2 separate regions of the Homo sapiens genome follow, and region 2 is linked to region 1. The links come from fine-mapping of genetic effects on gene expression. A gene starts in region 1. The other region holds a variant in brackets. All regions are shown on one strand. Distances are between the middles of the regions. Region 1 holds the start of CTSE (cathepsin E). Region 2 has its middle 7.5 kb from the start of RHEX.

Region 1 (10,404 bases):
AAGAGTCAGGCATCCTGGAGTGCATCCTGCGGTGCCGGCTCCCCTGTGAGCAGGAGCCAGCTCATGTCTGACAGTAACAGACTCTGTTCTAGGAGCTATCGAGCCCTGATAAAACTTATCCACAGAGCACTGAGCAACTGTCCTCTTATATTGTTATTATTTTATTTTGAGACATCTGTTGCCCTCTCAGGCTGGAGGGTAGTGGAGCAATCTGGGCTCACTGCAACCTCTGCCTCCCAGGTTCAAGAGATTCTCCCGCTTCAGCCTCCTGAGTAGCTGGGATTACAGGCACGTGCCACCATGCCTGGCTAATATTTGTATTTTTAGTAGAGACAAGGTTTCACTATGTTGGCCAGGCTGGTCTTGAACTCCTGACCTCAAGTGATCAGCCCACCTCAGCCTCCCAAATGTCCTCTTATTATTAATTTACTTTCTGGAAGCTGAAGCTCCAGAAAGAAGTTCACTAGATAGTGACACCACCACCAGCTTTCAAATGTTCTGGGAACAAAGTCTCTACATCCAGCCAGCCTCCAATCCACGTTCTTGAGCGTCTCTTTCTCTCCCCCCACCCCTCTCTCTCTCTCTCCAAAGACCCTCTCCTAATGCAGAGAGACCGGATCATTGACTATACTATGTGTCACTTTCCCCCACATCATACTATTTCACCTCAAATGCTCTTCTCTCTCCCTCTGCTCAAAGGACACACACAGACAACCACACATATGCCTAAGGTCTTTTGTTCTTTGGAAAGTGTTCAAATTGTCCACAGCAATATTTGGTTCTTGCTGGAAAAGGCCAGTAATCTACAGCCAGGGTAGGTTCAGTTCCTGGTGTCTCTGGAGAGGACAGATCCCATTAGCTCTGACAAACATCCCCAGTGTTCCTGCTCTTAACCTTTGTCAAATTTTCCAAAATCCAGCTAGACCCAGGGGCTCCTTGCAGGCAGTCGAGGCTGTGTCTGCTCCACTCAGTAGTCAGGTGGCCCACAGCTGCAAGGACCAGTCAGCTTTTTCTCAAGCCTGGGCCAGGCAAACTCTCTACATTTAGTAAACAGGGGCAAGAGGGATGCAGGGAGAGGTCTAAAAGATGGAAAAGGAGGGAGGGGTTATGGTTAGCCCCCTTTCAACAGTTCAGTGATAATGATGCTATAATTCTGTAGCAGAAAGTTTGCCCGCTTAGAAGTCAGGAGGGCTGAGTCCTAATCCTAGATCAGCCACTAAATGAACCATGTGCTCTTGGGCTGATCACTTTGCCTCTCTGCCTCAGTTTTCTCATTCTGCTATACAAGTGGGTTTGTCTTGAGAGTCTGTAAGAACCCTTCCAGCACTTCTGAAACACTGAAGTTTTTAGTGACAATCTTTAGTTCACATGACATGTTACAGTTTTTCAAGAACTTCCACATGCAAGCATCATTTGGAGCTACTGTGGGTTTGGTTCCAGACTACTGCAATAAAGTGAAAATTGCAATAAAGTCAATCACACAAGTTTTTTGGTTTCAAAATGCATGCAAAAGTTGTGTTTACCCTGTACTGTAGTCTATTAAGTGTGCAATAGCATTATGTCTAAAAACATCTTAATTAAAACATGCTTTATTGCTAAAAATGTTAACAATCATCTGAGCCTTCAGGGAGTCATAACCTTTTTGCTGGCGGAGGTCTTGCCTGGACATTAATGGCTGCTGACTGATCAAGGTGGTAGTTGCTCCAGGTTTGGGGTGGCCATGACAATTTCTTTCTTTCTTTCTTTCTTTTTTTTGAGATGGAGTTTCACTCTTGTTGCCCAGGCTGGAGTGCAGTGGCAGGATCTCGGCTCTCTGCAACCTCCGCCTCCCAGGTTCAATTAATACTCCTGCCTCAGCCTCCTGAGTAGCTGGCATTACAGGCATGCACCACCACACCCAGGTGTTTTGTATTTTTAGTAGAGATGGGGTTTCTCCATGTTGGTCAGGCTGGTCTCAAACTCCCGACCTCAGGTGATCTGCCCGCCTCGGCCTCCCAAAATACTGGGATTACAGGCACGAGCCACAGCGCCCAGTTCTTAAACTAAGAAAACAATGAAGTTTGCCACATAGATTGACTCTTCCTTTCTTGAAGATTTCCCTGTAGCATATGATGCTGTTTGATAGCATTTTACTCACAGTAGAACTTCTTTCAAAACTGGAGTAATCTTCTCAAACCCTACTACTGCTATCAACCAAGTTAATGCAATATTCATAATCTTTTGTTGGCATTTCAACAGTGTTCACAGCATCTTCACCAGGAATACATTCCATCTCAAGAAACCACATCCTTTACTCATCCATAAGAAGCAACTTCTCATCCATCCAAGTTTGATCATGAGGTTGCAGCAATTCAGTCACACCTTCAGGCTCCACTTCTAGTTCTCTTGCTATTCCCACCACATCTACAGTTACTTTCTCCACTGAAGTCTTGAACCCCTTAAAGTTATCCATGAGGATTGGAATCAACTTCTTCCAAACTCCTTTTAATTTTATAGTTTGATCTCCCATGAATCATGAATAATCATAATGGCATCTAGAATGGTAAATCCTTTCCGGAAGATTTCCATTTACTTTGCCCAGATCCATCAGAATCACTATCTATGGTGGCTATAGCTTTACAAAATGCATTTCTTAAATAATGAGACTTGAAAGTCAAAATTATTCCTTGATCCAGGGGCTGCAGAATGAATATTGGGTTAGCAGGCATAAAAACATTTATCTCCTTATAAATCTCCATCAGAGCTCTTTGGCAATGAGTTGCATTGTCAATGAGCAGTAAAATTTTGAAAAGAATTTTTTTTTTTCTGAGCAGTAGGTCTCAACAGCAAGCTTAAAATATCCAGTAAACCATGCTGTAAACCAATGTACTGTCATCCAGGGCTATGTTGTTCCACTGATACAGCACAAACAAACTCTATTTAGCATAGTTTTTTAGGGCCCTAGGATTTTCAGAATGGGCAAATGAGCATTGGCTTCAACTTAAAGTCACCAGCTGCATTATCCCCTAACAAAAGATTCAGCCTGTTCTTTGAAGATTTGAATCCAGGCATTGACTTCTCTCTAGTATGAAAGTCCTAGATGGTATCTTCTTCCAGTATGAGGCTATTTTGTCTATACTAAAAATCTGTTGTTCATTGTAGCCACCTTCATCAATGATCTTAGCTAGATCTTCTGGATAACTTGCTGCAGCTTCTGCTTTGGGACTTTCTGCTTCACCTTGCAGAAATCTCCATAGGCTTCACGTTTTCTTCTGCAGCTTCCTCACCTCTCTCTGCCTTCATAGAACTGAAGAGTGTTAGGGCCTTGCTCTGGATTTGGCTTTGACTTAAGGGAGTGTTGTCACTGCTTTGATCTTCTATCCAGACCAATAACACTTTCTCCATATCAGCAAGAAAACTATTTTGCTTTCTTATCATTTGTGTGTTCCCTGTAATATCACCTTCAATTTCCCTTAAGAACTTTTTCTTTGCATTCATGACTTGGGTAACTGTTTGGTGTAAGAGGTCTAGCTTTCAGCCCTTCTTGGCTTTCAACATGGCTTCCTCACTAGGCTTAATAATTTCTAGCTTTGAATTTAAAATGAGGAACATGCAAATCTTCCTCTCACTTAAACACTTAGAGGTCACTGTAGAATTATTAATTGGCCTAATTTCAATATTGTTGTGTCTCAGGCAACAGGAAGGCCCGAGGGGGAGAGAAAGAGAGGGAGAGAGAGAGATGGGGGAATGACCAGTTAGTAGAGCAATGGAGCAATCAGAACACACAATTACACTTATTAAATTCTCTGTCTTACACGGGTGCAGTTTGTGGTACCCCAAAACAATTACAACAGTAACATCAAAGATCACTGAGTACAGATCACCAAAACAGATAAAATAATCATGAAAAACTTTGAAATATTGCAAGAATTACCAAAATGTGGCACAGAGACACAAAATGAACACACAGTATTGGAAAAATGGTGCTGATAGACTTGCTTGACACAGGTTTGCCACAAACCTTCAATTAAAAAAAAAAAGCAGTATCTGCAAAGTGCAGTAAAGCAGAGTGCAGTACAACAAGTATATCTGTACCTTATTTTGTTTGTTTAATCCTCCTTAAAAACCCATTGATGTAGGTAAGGTATTTGGCAGATGACAAAACTAAGGTATGTGGTGAATAAGCAGTTACGGGCAAAACATGGCAGAGTTTACTGCCAAAATGAATGATCTCCACTTCTAGCCACTTCTGACTCAAGCTGCCCTTCTAGGTTTAGACCACTCTCCCCAGTGAAAGATCAACAAGACGGGCTCCTGGGAAATGCCAAAGAGGCTTTGTTGCCTTGGGTTCAGGGGTCAAAGGTCTAGGCTGTTCCTTAAGTCTTTTTGATGTCTTTTTTTAACATTTTTGGACCCAAGGGTGGGTTTGGCTTAGCTCCATACTCCACGTTTGCTTGCCATTTGAACTTCAGAGATGAAAGGCAGATCCCATAGCACTTAAGAGATTTTCCAGAACACTAGCTGGTCAGGGCAGAGCTAAACCTAAACGCAGGCCATCTACTTCCTACTGCTGAGCTAGTGCCCTCTGGAAGCATTGGCATATGGTGGTGGCCTCTGCTGCCCTGGCTAACTTGAGTCAGGGTCAGGGTCTTCCTACCTGTAACCCCTTCATCCCCACCCCAGGCACTGAAGCCCCACCATCTGTTTATGAGGCGGGTGGCCACAGAGATAGGCTGATGGTGAGGGGGTTTCACACACTGCGGTAACTAAGGCCTGAGCCCCACCCACTCTCCACCCCTGCGCTTAGTCCCACTTGACAGATAGAAGATCCTATTGTCCCTGAGCACTGTTAAGGGCTGAACTTTGTCCTCCAAAATCCATGTTGATGTCCTAACACCTAGTACCTCAGAACGTGACTGTATTTGGAGATAGGGTCTTTAAAGAGGTATTAAGGGTAAACGCAGTCATTAGGGTGGGCCCTACTCCAATATGACTAGCGTCCTTATAAGAAGAGGAAATGTGGATGTGGACACAGCCACACGCTGAGGGAAGACCCATGTGAAGACACAGAGAGAAGGCAGCCATCTGCAAGCCAAGGAGAGAGGCCTCCGAAGCAACCAAGTCTGCCAACACCTTGATCTTGGACTTCCAGCCTCCAGAATAGTGAGAAAATAAATTTCTGTTGTTTAAGCCCCCTGTACTTTGTCATGGCCGCTTTAGTAGACTCATGCGGGCACTTGCTGTAGACGCTGACCCCCTTGACCCTCCCTCGCTGCCCCTGCATTCTCCTCCACACACCCCTGAGCCCCAGCCCCAGATTCATCAAGTCCTTAGAGTCAGGAGAGTGGGCTCCATAAATCTGCAGCTACATTTTCCCATTTCAGGGCCTTTGAGGAGTGCTGGTTTGTGCTTCAAAGTGGGCCAGGGAAGGATAAACTGCCTTTGGAGCATTTGAGAGATTGAGGAGAGAACAGGAATCACCCAGAAAACAGACTGACGAATATTTTGAGTTAGAATCCTGCCACCCATGACAAGTCAGCTCCCACCCCTCCAGAGTCTCCAGCTAGAGCACTTGCAGTAAGAGTTCAGTGGGCCTTTCCAGGCAGCCAGGCATGTGCTGCCCTCCGGATTCATTAACAGGGTTTCTTGGGGTCAGAGGAGGTGCCAAAGCCCTGAGAGAAGCCAAGCCCCAGAGGACTCCCAAGTTCTCCCCGCAGACTCATATTCCTCTTGTAGGTGGGAAAGGGACGGAGAGGTGCAGGGGGAACGCCCTGTTCCACATGCCGTATTTACTCTGGGCATGGCTAATGACTCCAGGGCCTTATCATTCGGCCCTCAGACTGGGCTGGGCAGGTCTGAGAGTTAGGGAAAGTCCGTTCCCACTGCCCTCGGGGAGAGAAGAAAGGAGGGGGCAAGGGAGAAGCTGCTGGTCGGACTCACAATGAAAACGCTCCTTCTTTTGCTGCTGGTGCTCCTGGAGCTGGGAGAGGCCCAAGGATCCCTTCACAGGTGAGAAGACGTCCCCGCACTGTGTTCAGCTGGGTAGTCCCATGCCCTGCAACTCAGGGCTGCTCTGGGGTAGGAAAGCTGATGGGGAGGTGAAGAGGAGGAGAAGCTGAGGGCTTGCGTCAATGCATGGAAGAGACTCATCCAGTGACCGCCTGTGTATGGCCTTAATCTCCAGTCCTCAACAAGTCATCCTCCTGCCTCCACCTCCACGGAGGTGCCTTCCCAAGTCCCAGGGGTCTTCTTGTGTTGCAAAAGAGCAGGAACCTGCAGTTGTGGTTTGTAGCTCAAAGCGCCCCAGGACTTCCCCAGGGGACTGACCATCACTGTCCCCAAGAGTTTTTCTGTCCCTTTAAATCAGCCCTTCGTGATGTTCATGTAAAACTGTAGACCGCCCCACATCTCCCATTTTCCTAGATCTCAAAGACCTCAGCTCCAGGAGGGGAGCCATTTCCACTCTAAGATTCTAAGACTCTATAGGGCAGAGATGAGGCCGGGCAGGCTGAGTGGCAGAGAGGACGCTGATCCCACCTGTATCCTGCGTGCTGTCTTGCAGATCCCCCCCTCCCACCCCATCTTCTCTAGTTGGCCCCTGAGAAAATGGGACGAGAATGGGGGGAAGAGGGAGGCAGAAGTACATCTCCTGCTTACATGGGGGTTTGTCTCCAGGGTGCCCCTCAGGAGGCATCCGTCCCTCAAGAAGAAGCTGCGGGCACGGAGCCAGCTCTCTGAGTTCTGGAAATCCCATAATTTGGACATGATCCAGTTCACCGAGTCCTGCTCAATGGACCAGAGTGCCAAGGAACCCCTCATCAACTACTTGGATGTGAGGCCTCCTGGGGTCAGGGCTGGGGAGAGGTGGGAGCGGGAGGAAGGCCCAGCATTAGGGCATGGCCAGTGCCACATCAGTAGCACCGAAGGCCATTGTGGATTTCTTCACTTGGATGATGATCCATGGGGACTGATTCCCTGGGTCCCCATGGAGTTGGCTAAGCAGGCCCCCATGTACCCAAATGTCAGAGTTCTCTGCAGAAGGAAAGGGCTGGGAGTGAAAGCATCATCCCACACTGAAGGCCCCTGCTTCTGCTCTCAGCTGGGCAGCTTACTGGCTGTGTACCCTTAGGCAAGTTACTTAACCTCTCCCAGCCCCAGTTCCCTGGTCTGTAAAACAGATGGTTCTTCCTCCACTGCCTCTCCTACAATGTATTTATAAGAATCAGGTTAGTGCAAGTAAAATCAAATGAAGTAGCCAGAGGCTTGGTTTGATTTCCTCCTTCATGGCCATTTCTCTGCTCCTTTTACCTTTTATTTTCCAGCGTTGCCACTTCCTAGGCTCTGTAAACTCCAGTCTGTATTACCCCAGGCTCTGGCCCCTGGGAGCTTTCCCCTGGCTTCCTGGTGAGCACCCTTGTCCCTCCCCACCACCCACACCCTCTTTCCTTCTCACTCTTCCTTGCAGATGGAATACTTCGGCACTATCTCCATTGGCTCCCCACCACAGAACTTCACTGTCATCTTCGACACTGGCTCCTCCAACCTCTGGGTCCCCTCTGTGTACTGCACTAGCCCAGCCTGCAGTAAGTGGGGCCAGGAGCACCAGCAGAGAATGTCTGGGGGCTAGTCCTGGGAGGCCAAGCCTGGTACTCTGGGGAAGGGGGGCTTAGGTTCCAGAAACTGGCCATCCCTGCCACACCAGCTTCCACTCTCCATCTTTGAGTCAGCCGTGGAACTGCTTATAGCAGAGATAGAGCAAAGCCAAGGAAGAACTAAAATGTGGCTGCTGTCCAAGAGAGTAACTTTCATACTGATCAGAATTAATAGAAAGAAAGCCATTGAAAAGAGAAATCTTTGACATAATGACTCACTTCCTTTGGAACACCCAAAGGAATGTAGGGGAAGTTTAATTTAATTGGTTATTTCTGAGCAGGGAGGTGAGTCGGGTTCTAGTGTAGATAGTCTGCTTGTTTCAAGGAGGCTTGGTAGCCTTATCTCCTGGTGCACACAGGTGGGGCTGGTGGGGCACAATGGCATGGGTGGGTCCATTTGTCCAGAGGTAACTCAGAAGTTTCAGTGAGGATTGGAAAAGAAGAGCTACAGAAAGATGTCTTGTTCGATACAGGACAAGTCCCAGAGACAGAATGTCTCTGGAAACCCCAAGGCTAGAGATGTCCATCGGTTGGGAGAAAAGTTGGGAGTAATTTCCTGGGGCAATTGTTTATCCCTGAGTTTCTTTTGAAGCCAACCTCTGACCCACAATGGGTGGCAGGGACTGTGGCTGGCGCCTGATAAATGACACTTATCTTGGTGTGCCTCATGAGGTCATTGTGGACAATCAGGTTTGCTCAGGGATAGCTATTTGGTCCCCAGTTAGGCCACATCTGTAGCTAGAGGGAAATGTAGTTGTTCATTAGGGAGGGGCATCACCAGGCTTCTAGGGGCCCCCACTCAGTGTTGAGAGCTGAGGGAAGAGACCCTGCCGCTGTGGGGCTGGGTGGCATTAGGGCAGGGATGCAGCCAGTGAGCCGATGGCATAAGCAAGAGCAGTGCACTTCTTTCCAGAGACGCACAGCAGGTTCCAGCCTTCCCAGTCCAGCACATACAGCCAGCCAGGTCAATCTTTCTCCATTCAGTATGGAACCGGGAGCTTGTCCGGGATCATTGGAGCCGACCAAGTCTCTGTGAGTGCAAGTCCTTCATTTTTTCTCTCTTGGACAGAAACTTGGGAGACTTATTCAGAGGTCTTACATTTCAAATCTGCCTCAGGAATGGGTGGAAACAGGGGTTAGCACTAACTTCTAGGAGAAAGGGCAAGCAACACTCCCCACCTGAGATGGTGGCAGTGGGTCAGTCTCCACAGCACGCTGGGCCCTGGGGGAGAGCAGCACAGGGGGACTCTGGCAGGAAGCAGTGCCCAGTGCACAAAGCCTGGTGGCAGGGTGCACAGCTGGATCTCCAGTCTCTAGGGCATTGAGGAGATAAAACCACGTCTCCGTCTTGAAGGATAAAGAAGTCCACACCAGGGGGAGAGATTTGGACTCAGTAACATAAGGGGGCAAGGTCTGAAATGGGAGTCCAATCACAGAGGCAAGGCAGAAGCCCAGTTGTCCAAAGGCCAAGGTCCAAACTGAACTCAGTGCTGAGCTCATGAGCTGTTCCTCAAACTCCCTCTGACCTCTGACCCTCTGACTCCCTCTGAAGTCCTATGGGTCCTAGAACTATGGGAATCAGACAAATGTGGGGACAGAGAGCCAGGTACTTTTTCAGGCTTATAGACAGCAATATATGCCTGGGCCTTGGGAGAAAGAGAGGTTGACCTACTCCTGGTGAACGTTGGTCCCTGGGGTATTCCCGAGGCCAGCAGGGCACAGCCTTCATCAACATCCCTTAGAGTGGGTGGAGTAGGACATATTATCAACTGAAAGAATGCCAGAAGCAGAAAAACACCATCTATGTAAAAATATCATACAGATAAAACAATGTACTGTATTTTCTATTGGAACTATGTATGCGTGTGTATACACACATTACATATATAATATATAATATATAATATCCATATATGAATATATGTAATATACAGTATATTTGTATATATAATATATATCCATCTGTATATATTATATAGATACAATATGTAACATATTAAAGTATATAATAATTGCATAATTATATCATATAATACATGTTATATATTATATAATTAATATAATATGTAATACATTACATTAATATATGTTATATAATATATAATATATTATAGAATATAATTGATATAATGTATTATATTAATAATATAGTATGTGTTATATAATATATTAATATGTTGTATGTAATAATATATTACATAATATATTATGTTAATCTATTATATAATAGATTAACCTATTATATAATAGATTAACATAATATATTACATAATATGTTAATCTATTATATAATAGATTAACACAATATATATGTAATGTGTATATATTATGTTATATATAAGATTCTATATATATTATGACATATACATATATATTATATATCTAATTACATATAATATATATATAAAAGTTAAAATGACTATTTTGAAGGCTACATCCCTAACTGATCATCACAGTAACCTCTGAGATGCAGGGAAGGGACTGAAATTAGCATAGAAAGGGGAATTCAAGCCTATAGCTTGTCACGTATCTGTTGGCTCACCTGGCTGGTGTAGGGCAGCAGCCAAGCCCACAGCAATGTCAGCTGCATTGCTCCTTCCCTCAGTTTTTCTGGCTCCAGGACCAGGTGTGCACTTACCTCTAACAAATCATCAGCTTTTGCTGCATAACATCCCCATCATTGAGGCTGGAGACTTGGGGACAGTGAGAGAACAATGTGGGTTCCAGTCCACCCTCACCCTCATGGGTTCCAACTGGCCCTTTTTCTCCCACT
Region 2 (10,404 bases), 21 kb before region 1:
AGCAGTCAGGAAATCCCCTAACAAGGCAAGCATTGGAACCAAGAGCCCAGGTGGCACGGATGAGTCACTTCACTTACTTGGACTCAGTTCCCCTATTTGTGAAATGAAGCAAGGATGAGAAGAGGAACAAGACGTGATCAAGAAAAAGGCAAATGTTTTCACAAGTGCCTGTCATTGCCCCCTTCTGTTGTCCCCTTCCACATGTCACCTGGTACATTGTACATTTCTTCTAACAATTGTGTTATTGGCCAGGAAATACAGAGAATTCTTTTAGAGAATAGGTTTTCTAAGTGTTAAAATTGTTTTTATTTTTAATTTTGTAAGGGGAGGACATCATCACCTTTTCAGTTTGGGACTTTTGAAGTGTTTGTTTCATTAGGTCACATTCAGATGGTTTTAGAATTCAAAAGGTACAAAAGGATAGTCCTGGAAAAGCTGCTCATCTGCTCTTGACCCCAGCCATCTAGTTCTCCTCCCTGGAGGAAACCAGCATGCCCAGTTTATTGTGTACGTTATGTGTACATGAGCAAACACACAGACACACAGAAACACACTCACCATACAGGCGTCTTCCTTACACATGACAGTGTACTACATACTTTGTTTTGCCTTTTGCTTTTTCACTTAATATATCTAGGAGTTAATTTATTATTAATACATACAGAACTTTCTCATTCCTTTCTTCCTCTTCAGAGTGTTCCGTTCTATGGTTGCTCACAGTTTATTTAACTGGTCATCTAGTAGTAAATTTAGATTGTTTCCACTTTTTACACTTGAAATGATGATGTAATTATTAAACTGCAACAAACATCATTTGCACAGGTGTAAATATGTGTGTAAAATTAGAGAAATGGCCATTAAAGTAGATCTGCCATCCCAGTTTTAGGAAGTCAGTATTCCTTTTTACAAATCCAAAATACAGTGTTACCCAATTTGACTACTCATATTATAATCCAGATTTCACTCTGGCTGTTTCCAAAAATCAAAGCACTCCTCAGAGAACAAAGATATGACATCACTGAGGATATTCAACAGAACTACCAATTTCTCTAAAGGCCGACCTCCAAGGAGAATCCAAACGCCTTCAGCAATAACAGCATCACTAGAGTGAGTATAGCATGTCCCTGGATGCTGATGATGGAGCGATAAACCCTCATGACACAGACATTTCCAAACAATTCAGGCAAAGTTTACTGAGTGCCAACTACATAGTCTGTTTAAAGCCCAGTCTGTCCTATTACACTGGTCTTTCAGTTTAAATAAATAAATAAATAAATATAAATAAATAAATAACCCAGTCTGTAAGGATGAATAGAAAAAGGCCTTGTCATCAAGAAACCAATGATCTAGGGAGCAGTTCTCAAAGTGTAGTCCAGGGACCCCCTGGGGGTTCCAGAGATCTTTTCAGAGGGTTCATGAGGTCAAAACCACTCTCTTAATAATACTAAGATACTAGTTGCCTTTTTCACTCTCAGTTTCTCTCAAGCATACAGTGGAGTTTCCCAAAGTCTATGTGACATGTGGTATGGCATGAGACTGAGTGCAAAGGCAGACCTGAGAACTCAGCTGTCTTTTATTGAGCTAGGTATGAATAATGAGATTTGCACATGCATAAAACAGTGCTTCTCTTTTCATTAAATTCTTCATGCTTTGGGAAATAGTTATATTTCATAAAAAGTGTTATGTTTAAGATGTAATGGCTTTGGTACTATTTTCTAAGGGGATTAGATAAATATTTTTAAATTTTCTTAGTTTTAATTTCTGATATGGTCAATATGAATAGATATAAACTACATAAACAATAGCGTTTTGGGTTCCTTAGTACTTTTTGAGAGTGTACAGGGGTCTGGAGGCCAAAGAGTTTGAGAATTGCTGATCTAAGGACCCATGGCATTTCTTCACCATAGGGCAAGAGAGGAGCATTTTGCCTTATCTGCCAAGAGTGTGCTATGCTACATCCAGGGGTGCAAGCCAAAAGATTCAGGAGGAACAGATTGGGTGTTCTCAAATAGCGATGTGTCAAGAGGACAGCAATTGCTTGGACACAAGAATTCCCCCCGGAGCCTGCTGGCTGGCAGTGCAGCGGCTGTGTAGAAAGGCTCTACCAGAGGGGCAAAGTCCAGGCATGAGGCAACAAGGAGGCTCTGAGGTTGGGGGAGCCTGCAGAAGAAGCGGAAGAGGAAGCTGGATAAGTCCGCCGCCCCTGGACTAAGCTGCTGACTACCTCCTGCTGTGATTCCAAGAGCCACTGCCTCAAAAAACTTCCTTGCAGGTGCTGGTGCCTGAAATTCCAGTGGAGGTGTTTCATTCCCTCAGCCAAAGGCAAATTCAATCCCAACAATCTCAAGTATCACTCAAGCTTACACAAGTGTGCAAATAACATTATGGAAGATAGATTCGAAGGTCACACTTTAATAAAACAAGAGAGTGTGTCTATAACAGGAGTGGGGTGGGATGGGTGGAGCGGACGGGAAATGGAGAACAAAGACTCAAAAATATGAAATAAATAGAACATAAGAGCAGTTCGTGGACCCATGATGTAAGAATGCCACTAGGGGGATTGATCAATCTGATTCTGGGTAGCTAAAATCAAAGAAAAAAAAATCCAATCCAGTCAAACTTCTCTGTAGCATATGGTATGTCCTTAGCAGCGTGAGACAGCTTACAAGGATAGAGAAGAATGAGACACGGGCCCTGGGTTCAGAGAGTGCTACCCCACGCTCACCCCCCACCCCAATTTAGCGAGGAAAATATCCGCGGCAACCATAGCAGCTGTAACAAAAGGTAGGTGTATAATCAAAGCTAAAAAGATGTACAAAGAAAGGGCTATTGGATCAGAAAGGAGGAGCAGGTTGTTTCTAACTTTAGTGACGAGGGAAGACTACATGGAGGAGGTGGCATTTGTTGTGGTCACGGATGTGTAGGAAGGATTCCTATGGCAGTGCTGAGGCTGTGGATATACCAGATGGGAGGGTGCTTGTAGTGAAGGCATGGCAGTTGGAATATCCAGCCATTTTTCCTTCGATGAACATCTGAAATCACTGCTAAGAGAGGGAGCATTGTACACCTGAGGGTGAAAGGAAGGCTGTCACCTAGGATGCAGAAGGAGGGAGGAACAGAACCTGGGAAGACAGAGGGCACGAAAGACAGTTCATGAACTTCAAGAGCCCAGTGGACTGAGATCATGTCTGATTTCACTTATCTCCCCGGCTTCTAGGCCAGTGCCTGGAACACAGCAGCCCTCAATAAATGCTCATTGAATGAATGAGAAGTTGGACACACTCCCTTTGCTCTTTTTCAGGCTGGCCACAGATGTGCTGCCGTAACCGAGTGGAGCCATATACTCTCACCATTTCTAGGACTTTAAATGTTTTTCTGGTTGCTTTTGCAGAATTTCATTTCTCCAAATAGAAACCCTGCGTCCTCTTGAGGTTTATTACAGAGGTATTTATTGGTTGGGGTTGCTTTAAAGATCACCATCAGGTTTTCATTTTGCACAGCAGCTTATTTGCAAACGTCAAACAGGTGTCTTAACATTTGGCATCCTAAGAAAATTAAACTGTCAGCCTCTTGGGCTCCTACAAAAGAGCACCAGTGAACATGTGAAGCCAGAACTGTCCACAGGTGACTTAACAGGAACTGATCCCATATTACCATCCTTTACTGGCTCTGCACATATCCTTCATTCAATTTAAAAACATAATAAAAATTTTTTTTAAGCAAGCACATTTTACTTACTTATTTGTTTATTTAGACAAGAGTCTCACTCTGTCGCCCAGGCTGGAGTGCAGTGGCGTGATCTCGGCTCACTGCAACTTCTGCCTCTCGGGTTCAAGTGATTCTCCTGCCTCAGCCTCTCGAGTAGCTGGGATTACAGGCACCCACCACAATGTCCAGCTAATTTTTGTATTTTTAGTAGAGACGGGGTTTTACCATGTTGGCCAGGCTGGTCTCAAATTCCTGACCTCAAGTGATCCACCGGCCTCGGCCTCTCAAAGTGCTGGGATTACAAGCATGAGCCACCGCACCTGGCCGCAAGCACATTTTTAACAAGTGCAAAATGGAAACCTTATGCACATCTTACGATTTCGTTGACGACTCAGAACTGGGGATATCTCGTGTGACCTCCGGTCAGCAGTTTAAAGGATGAGGCATACTTATCCCCATTTGTAGCTGAGGTAACTGAGTGATAAGTGAATTGCTCCAGGTCACAGTTAGCAAACAACAAAACCAGCATCCAAACAGAGGTCTCAAAATCCCTTAAACTACCTTTCATTTACTACACAGATTGTTTCTATATCATCTTTATTAGCTGTAATAACCACATAAATTTTGGAGTAGCTAAGGACAGTTGTTCAGGTTGTTTATTGCTCAAGGGCATGACATCTAAAGAAACTATCCAACCTGTAATCCCAGCACTTTGGGAGGCCAAGGTGGGCAGATAATCTGAGGTTGGGAATTCAAGACTAGCCTGACCAACATGGAGAAACCCTGTCTCTACTAAAAATATAAAAAATTAGCCAGGCGTGGTGGGGCATGCCTGTAATCCCAGCTACTCAGGAGGCTGAGGCAGGAGAATCGCTTGAACCCGGGA[G/T]GTGAAGGTTGCAGCGAGCCAAGATCGCACCATTGGACCCCAGCCTGGGCAACAAGAGTGAAACTCCGTCTCAAAAAAAAAAAAAAAGAAAGACAGAAACTATGCACATCACAGACATCATTATGTTGAATTTTTTTCACTTTTTTATTTAACTGCTAACTCTAAAGGTAGATGACATATTCTTATTAAAATAGTTTTCTGACAAATAACAATAAAATGTCTTCTCTAACAAAGATCCTTTTTTATGACAATTTTCTTTCAGATGGAAATAGATTTTCTAACAGGGTTGACATTTACTTCATAAGCTGAAGCAGAGAGTGTTTGACAAAGACCTTATTGGTTTAAGTAACGAGTGCCACAATAACTAGTGCTTCCAAACAAGGAGTTGTTTTCCAACTCTTGTTTTGATTTTTATCTAATTTTTTTTTAAATCCTGTATTAGTATTTGTGTATTGGCTAAATTTGAAGTTTTGCATTACAGTTCATATTGTCTGCCTGAATGGTAGCTCTGAATTCCTAATTTAGATCTACGGATTTTTATTATTACATAACTCACTTTTGTGGTAATTAATGATCATAGGCAATTATATATTCATAAAATAATTATTTTATATTCATAAATTAGAGACTATTATATCATGAATTGTGAATTGTATCATAGCTATTGTTTATGGGTTGTTAAAGAAAATTTCTTCAGGAGAAAAGCTAACTGCTGGTAAAGTTTCATGGCTTATTATATATATTTTTTAAAGTTTTAAGTTCTAGGATAAACTACTATTATGTTTTAATTATGTATATAGATATATACACATATATATATATATATATTTTTTTTTGAGACAGAGTGTCGCTCTGATGCCCAGGCTGGAGTACAGTGGCATGGTCTCAGCTCACTGCAGCCTCCGCCTCCCGGGTTCCAGCTATTCTCCTGCCTCAGCCTCCTGAGTAGCTGGGATTACAAGCATGTGCCACCACGCCTGGCTAATTTTTGTATTTTTAGTAGAGATGGGGTTTCACCATGTTGGTCAGGCTGGTCTTGAACTCCTGGCCTCGTGATCCACCCGCCTCAGCCTCCCAAAGTGCTGGGATTACAGGCATGAGTCATCATGCCCGGCCTTAATAATATTTCTTTAACATTTAATAAGCTAATATAATATTATTTCTCCCAGGATACTGATAAGAAAAAAAAATCAAACTAAAACTAGAAGATGAAAAGCTGTCTAGATAGAAAGTAAAGTAAAACTATTTGGATTATTGAATAAATTTAGGGAGAAATAGAGAGTTTAGGGCTGTTTGTTTCAGTGAATGTGTCACAGAAATGTGAGATGTGAATTTACCTTTTAGTTCCATTGTCAGAAATAATCGATGAATCTAAAAAAAAGTAGCTTTAAAAATGCAAAGAATTCAAACACATGGCCAAGTAGTTTGAATAGGAAACAAAGATGTACTCTTGCTGAAAATTATTCACCTCAAGTAAAAAATTTTTTATCTTTACAAAAGATAATACAGGTTGGAAGTTTTTGGAAATATAATGGACACAAATTTTTTCCAAATGGTGAGGAGAAATAATAATGACTAGATTCTGATTATTTTATTATACTTCCAAGGACTCTGTATTTTGCCAGCTCTTTGAGAACAAAAAATCAGCTGGAAAATGGGAAAGAATGCAAAGATTGTACAGCACTTGGCACATTTTTTTGTAAACATGAAGAATCTGAAATAAACATCAATAGGAATGCTAAGTATTCAAATTTCAAATCTGATTAGAAATATATAATTATTAATGCTGCAAAACAGATTCTATATGATGAGGAAAATATTACATTGAACAAAAAAACTCAATTCTGTTTTGGCAAGACAATATCTAGCATTCAGAGGATCATCTACAAAAATGTATAAGCAGTATAATAACAGGAATTTTCTTCATTTACGAAAAGCATAGAAGCTTAATAGAATTTACAGCAGTATACAAATATATATTGTATGTTTCAAATATGCAATAATTTGTATATATACAATATATATTTGTTTATATAAACATATACTTGTATATTATTGTACAAATATTATATACTATATATAAACACCAAATATATACCAAATATTATATACTATATATAAATATTATATACTATATATAAACACCAAATAGCATTTACACATTATGTAGCAGATGAAAAGCAAAACCAAATGATTAAAATATAGCAGATTTGTTGACTGAAGTTATTTTGAATCTTGTAAGAAGTGCTAAATATCACACAGTTAAATAACTTGAGGTACATTTCCTGATGTAAGCCACGTGGAACAGTTGACAATTATTTTTAGATTTGTACATTTTCAAAATGCAAATATATCTATATGTAAACATTAATTTTTTTCCCTACAGTAAATGATACAGCTGGAGAAGGATTATTTAGGTTTTTGGTTGACCACAACCATCACCAACAGAAGCACTGAATATAGGCTATAATGATTTGAGGGAGCAGATACAACAAAGATGAAAAAAATTTATGACAAACTTAATGGATTTCAGCATAGGTCCCCAAAAGATTCTAAGGCTGCCTTGCTCTGTCGCCCAGGCTGGAGTGCAGTGGCCTGATCTCGGCTCACCGCAATCTCCGCCTCCCAGGTTCAAGTGATTCTCTTGCCTCAGCCTCCCAAGTAGCTGGGATTACAGGCACACGCCACTGCACCTGGCTAATCTTCTGTATTTTTAGTAGAGAATGGCGGTTCACCATGTTGGGCAGGCTGGTCTCGAACCCCTGACCTCAGGTAATCCACCCACGTCAGCCTCCCAAAGTGCCAGGATTACAGGCGTGAGCCACCACGGCCGGCCAGGTTGCCTATTCTTTAAAGCCAATAGTGAATAAAATATTAAAAATTCCTGTCTGGGTGAGGTGGCTCACACCTGTAATCCTCTACAATCTGAAGGTCAATAGCAAAATTAGTTTTTTTCTATATTGGAAGCAATAATATCTCTTTAAAAGAGAGGCTTATAATAAAGAATATCTCAAGGTCTTTTCAGTATTCTAGATGACATGCATAAATTGAAAAATTATGACAAATATGAGCTTCTGCAACCATTAAAAATATACAATTGAAATTGAGAAACATAGGAGGAAGAGTGATACTGATGAAGCATTAGTGTAAGAGGAACTAAAATCCTGAAGTCGCTTTCTAAAATCTAGTTGATATGGCTGGGCTCACACCTGTAATCCCAACACTTTGGGAGGCAGGAGGATCGCTTGAGCTCAGAAGTTCAAAACCAGCCTAGGTAACATGGTGAAACACTGTATCTATACAAAATTTAGCCAGCATGTTGGTACATGCCTGTAGTCCCAGCTACTTGGGAGGCGGAGAGCAGAGGATTGCTTGAGCCCAGGAGGTTGAGGCTGCAGTGAGCCATGATCGTGCCATTGCACTCAAGCCTGGGTGACAGAGCAAGACCCTGTCTCAAAAAATAAATAAATAAGTAGATTAATAAAATCTAATTGCCTCCCATGAAATGCCTCAATTTATTTTCAGTAATAATATACCAGACACATTTTCCTAAAACCATCCTAGCTCTTAGGATACATTAACTTTGGTAGTATCAGCCAGCAGTGGAAAATGTAGATACTTTTAAAACAATTATAAAAAGCTACTTATCAAGAATGTCACAAGAAAGACTATCAATTCTAGTGACCATTTTTATAGAAAATAAGATACTGAGCCGGGTGCAGTGGCTCATGCCTATAATCCCAGCACTTTGGGAAGCCGAGGGGGCGCAGATCACCTGAGGTCAGGAGTTCGAGACCAGCCTGGCCAACATGGTAAAACACCATCTCTACTAAAAATACAAAAATTAGTGGGGCATGGTGGTGCACACCTGTAATCCCAGCTACTCAGGAGGCTGAAGCAGGAGAATCACTTGAACCCGAGAGACGGAGGTTGCAGTGAGCCGAGATTGCGCCACTGCACTCCAGCCTGGGTGACAGAGTGAGACTCCATTTCAAAAAAAAAAAAAAAAAAAACTGGAACAAGCAGGCATTAAAATTGACATAGAAAATGTTGTCCCCATGAAAATTATTTTATGACTAAAACTATCTTATGATGAATTGTTACATCCCAGAGACTTTCAAATCCTGAGTATTGTGACTAAAAACACTAATTTTCTATTATCTTGGATTTAATAATTTTATATATATAATTCATATAGAACCAACTTGTGTTTGTTTCATTGGGGTACCCCTTCCTTATCCCACACAGGTGCTGTAGGGGTCAATAGTAACCCAGCACCTTTTAGTGATTAGTTAAAAAGTGACTGCGGCAAGAGGACAGCTAGCAAAGCATCTGTTCTCTTCCACGCATGTTACCTCGTGCATGTGATTACTGTGTGTGAACCTGCCTGACAGTGGTTGCCTACTCAGGCATGAAAGGCCTGCCATGATCTGAGTCCTGCCCACCTCCCAGCCGTGCTCTCTTACACTTTATGCTGCAGCCAGCCTGGGCTTCTGGCAGTTTCTCGGTGCCCCAGGCTTGTTCTTGCCTGTGCACACTCCGCCCCAACCCTGCCTCCCCCTCCCTCACGGGAGGGCTGCAAGAGGCTCCCACACAGTGCCTGCAATCATAGCATTCCTCACACAGAGCTGTTACCTGTTACCTCACCTGCAGTCTGCCTTCCTCCCTAGACTGTCACTCCTTCAGGGAAGATTCGTGTCTCCTGTCTTTGCACACGGGTGCACTGCCCAGTCTCTGCACCTAACTGATGCTCTGTAATGCTGTTATTGGGAGAAAGACACATGAAGATGGCCAAATTTATCTATGTCTTTAAAGAAGTTCCAACTCTAAAAACCAAATAAATTAAGTTAAAACAATTTGAAACTATTTTTAAAAAATAATTAAAATGCTCAGCCCAGTGAAGTGTTCTGCAGACAGACACTTTCTAGCAAGAAGGCAAATTGTTACCATCTCTCTGAAGGGCAATTTGGTGGTGGGTATCAAAAAGCAATGAAGGCCAGGCACAGTGGCTCACGCCTGTAATCCCAGCACTTTGGGAGGCTGAGGCAGGCAGATCATGAGGTCAGGAGTTTGAGACCAGCCTGGCCAACATGGTGAAACCCCGTCTCTACTACAAATTCAAAAATTAGCTGAGTGTGGTGGTGCACACCTGTAATCCCAGCTACTCAGGAGGCTGAGGCAGGAGAATTGCTTGAACCCGGGAGGTGAAGGTTGAAGTGAGCCCAGATCGCGCCATTATACTCCAGCCTGGGCAACAACAGAGCAAAACTCCGTTTCAAAAAAAAAAAAAAAAAGCAATGAAAATGTCCATACTCCTTAGACTCAGCAACTCCACTTAGAGGAATTAATCCCAATGACATAATTAAGAAAATGTGTGCAAAGATCCAGGGGGTAAAGTAGGGAACTACTGTGTCATTTACACCAGCAGCAATTGAGAAACAACCTTGATACCCAGAAACAATCTTGATACCTCAAGATACCTTGAGGTTGCAGTGAGCCCAGATCGTGCCACTGCACTCCAGCCTGGGCAACAGGGCGAGACTCCGTCTCAAAAAAAAAAAATAGAGATGAGGGCTTCCTATGTTGCCCAGGCTGGCCTCAAACTCCTTGGCTCAAACAATCCTCCCACCTCCGAAAGTGTTGGGATTACAGGTGTGAGCCACTGCACCTGGCCTGTTTTCTAATTTTTCTACAGTGACTATATATTGTGCTAAAACAGAGAAGGATGAGAGGAGAGGAGAGAAAAAATTTTAAAACGAGCAGGCTGCAGAGAGAACTGACCTCCCCTAGCGGTGTCTGCCTCCCAGAGG

The links.
Region 2: its variant is fine-mapped to the expression of CTSE in whole blood (TOPMed, PIP above 0.99).

What each region holds. Positions count from the first base shown.
Region 1 is chr1:206,019,308-206,029,711 of GRCh38, reverse strand. CTSE (cathepsin E) reads left to right here and starts at 5,817. Exons shown (of 9, transcript NM_001910.4): 1 at 5,817-5,988; 2 at 6,655-6,811; 3 at 7,445-7,562; 4 at 8,545-8,663. The coding sequence starts at 5,921.
Region 2 is chr1:206,040,516-206,050,919 of GRCh38, reverse strand. No RefSeq gene overlaps it. Among named protein-coding and RNA genes, the nearest start is that of RHEX, 7.5 kb to the left of the region's middle. RefSeq lists enhancers at 1-214, 1,369-1,438, 3,168-3,337, 8,591-9,092. The variant G/T (reference allele first, on the strand shown) is at 4,595.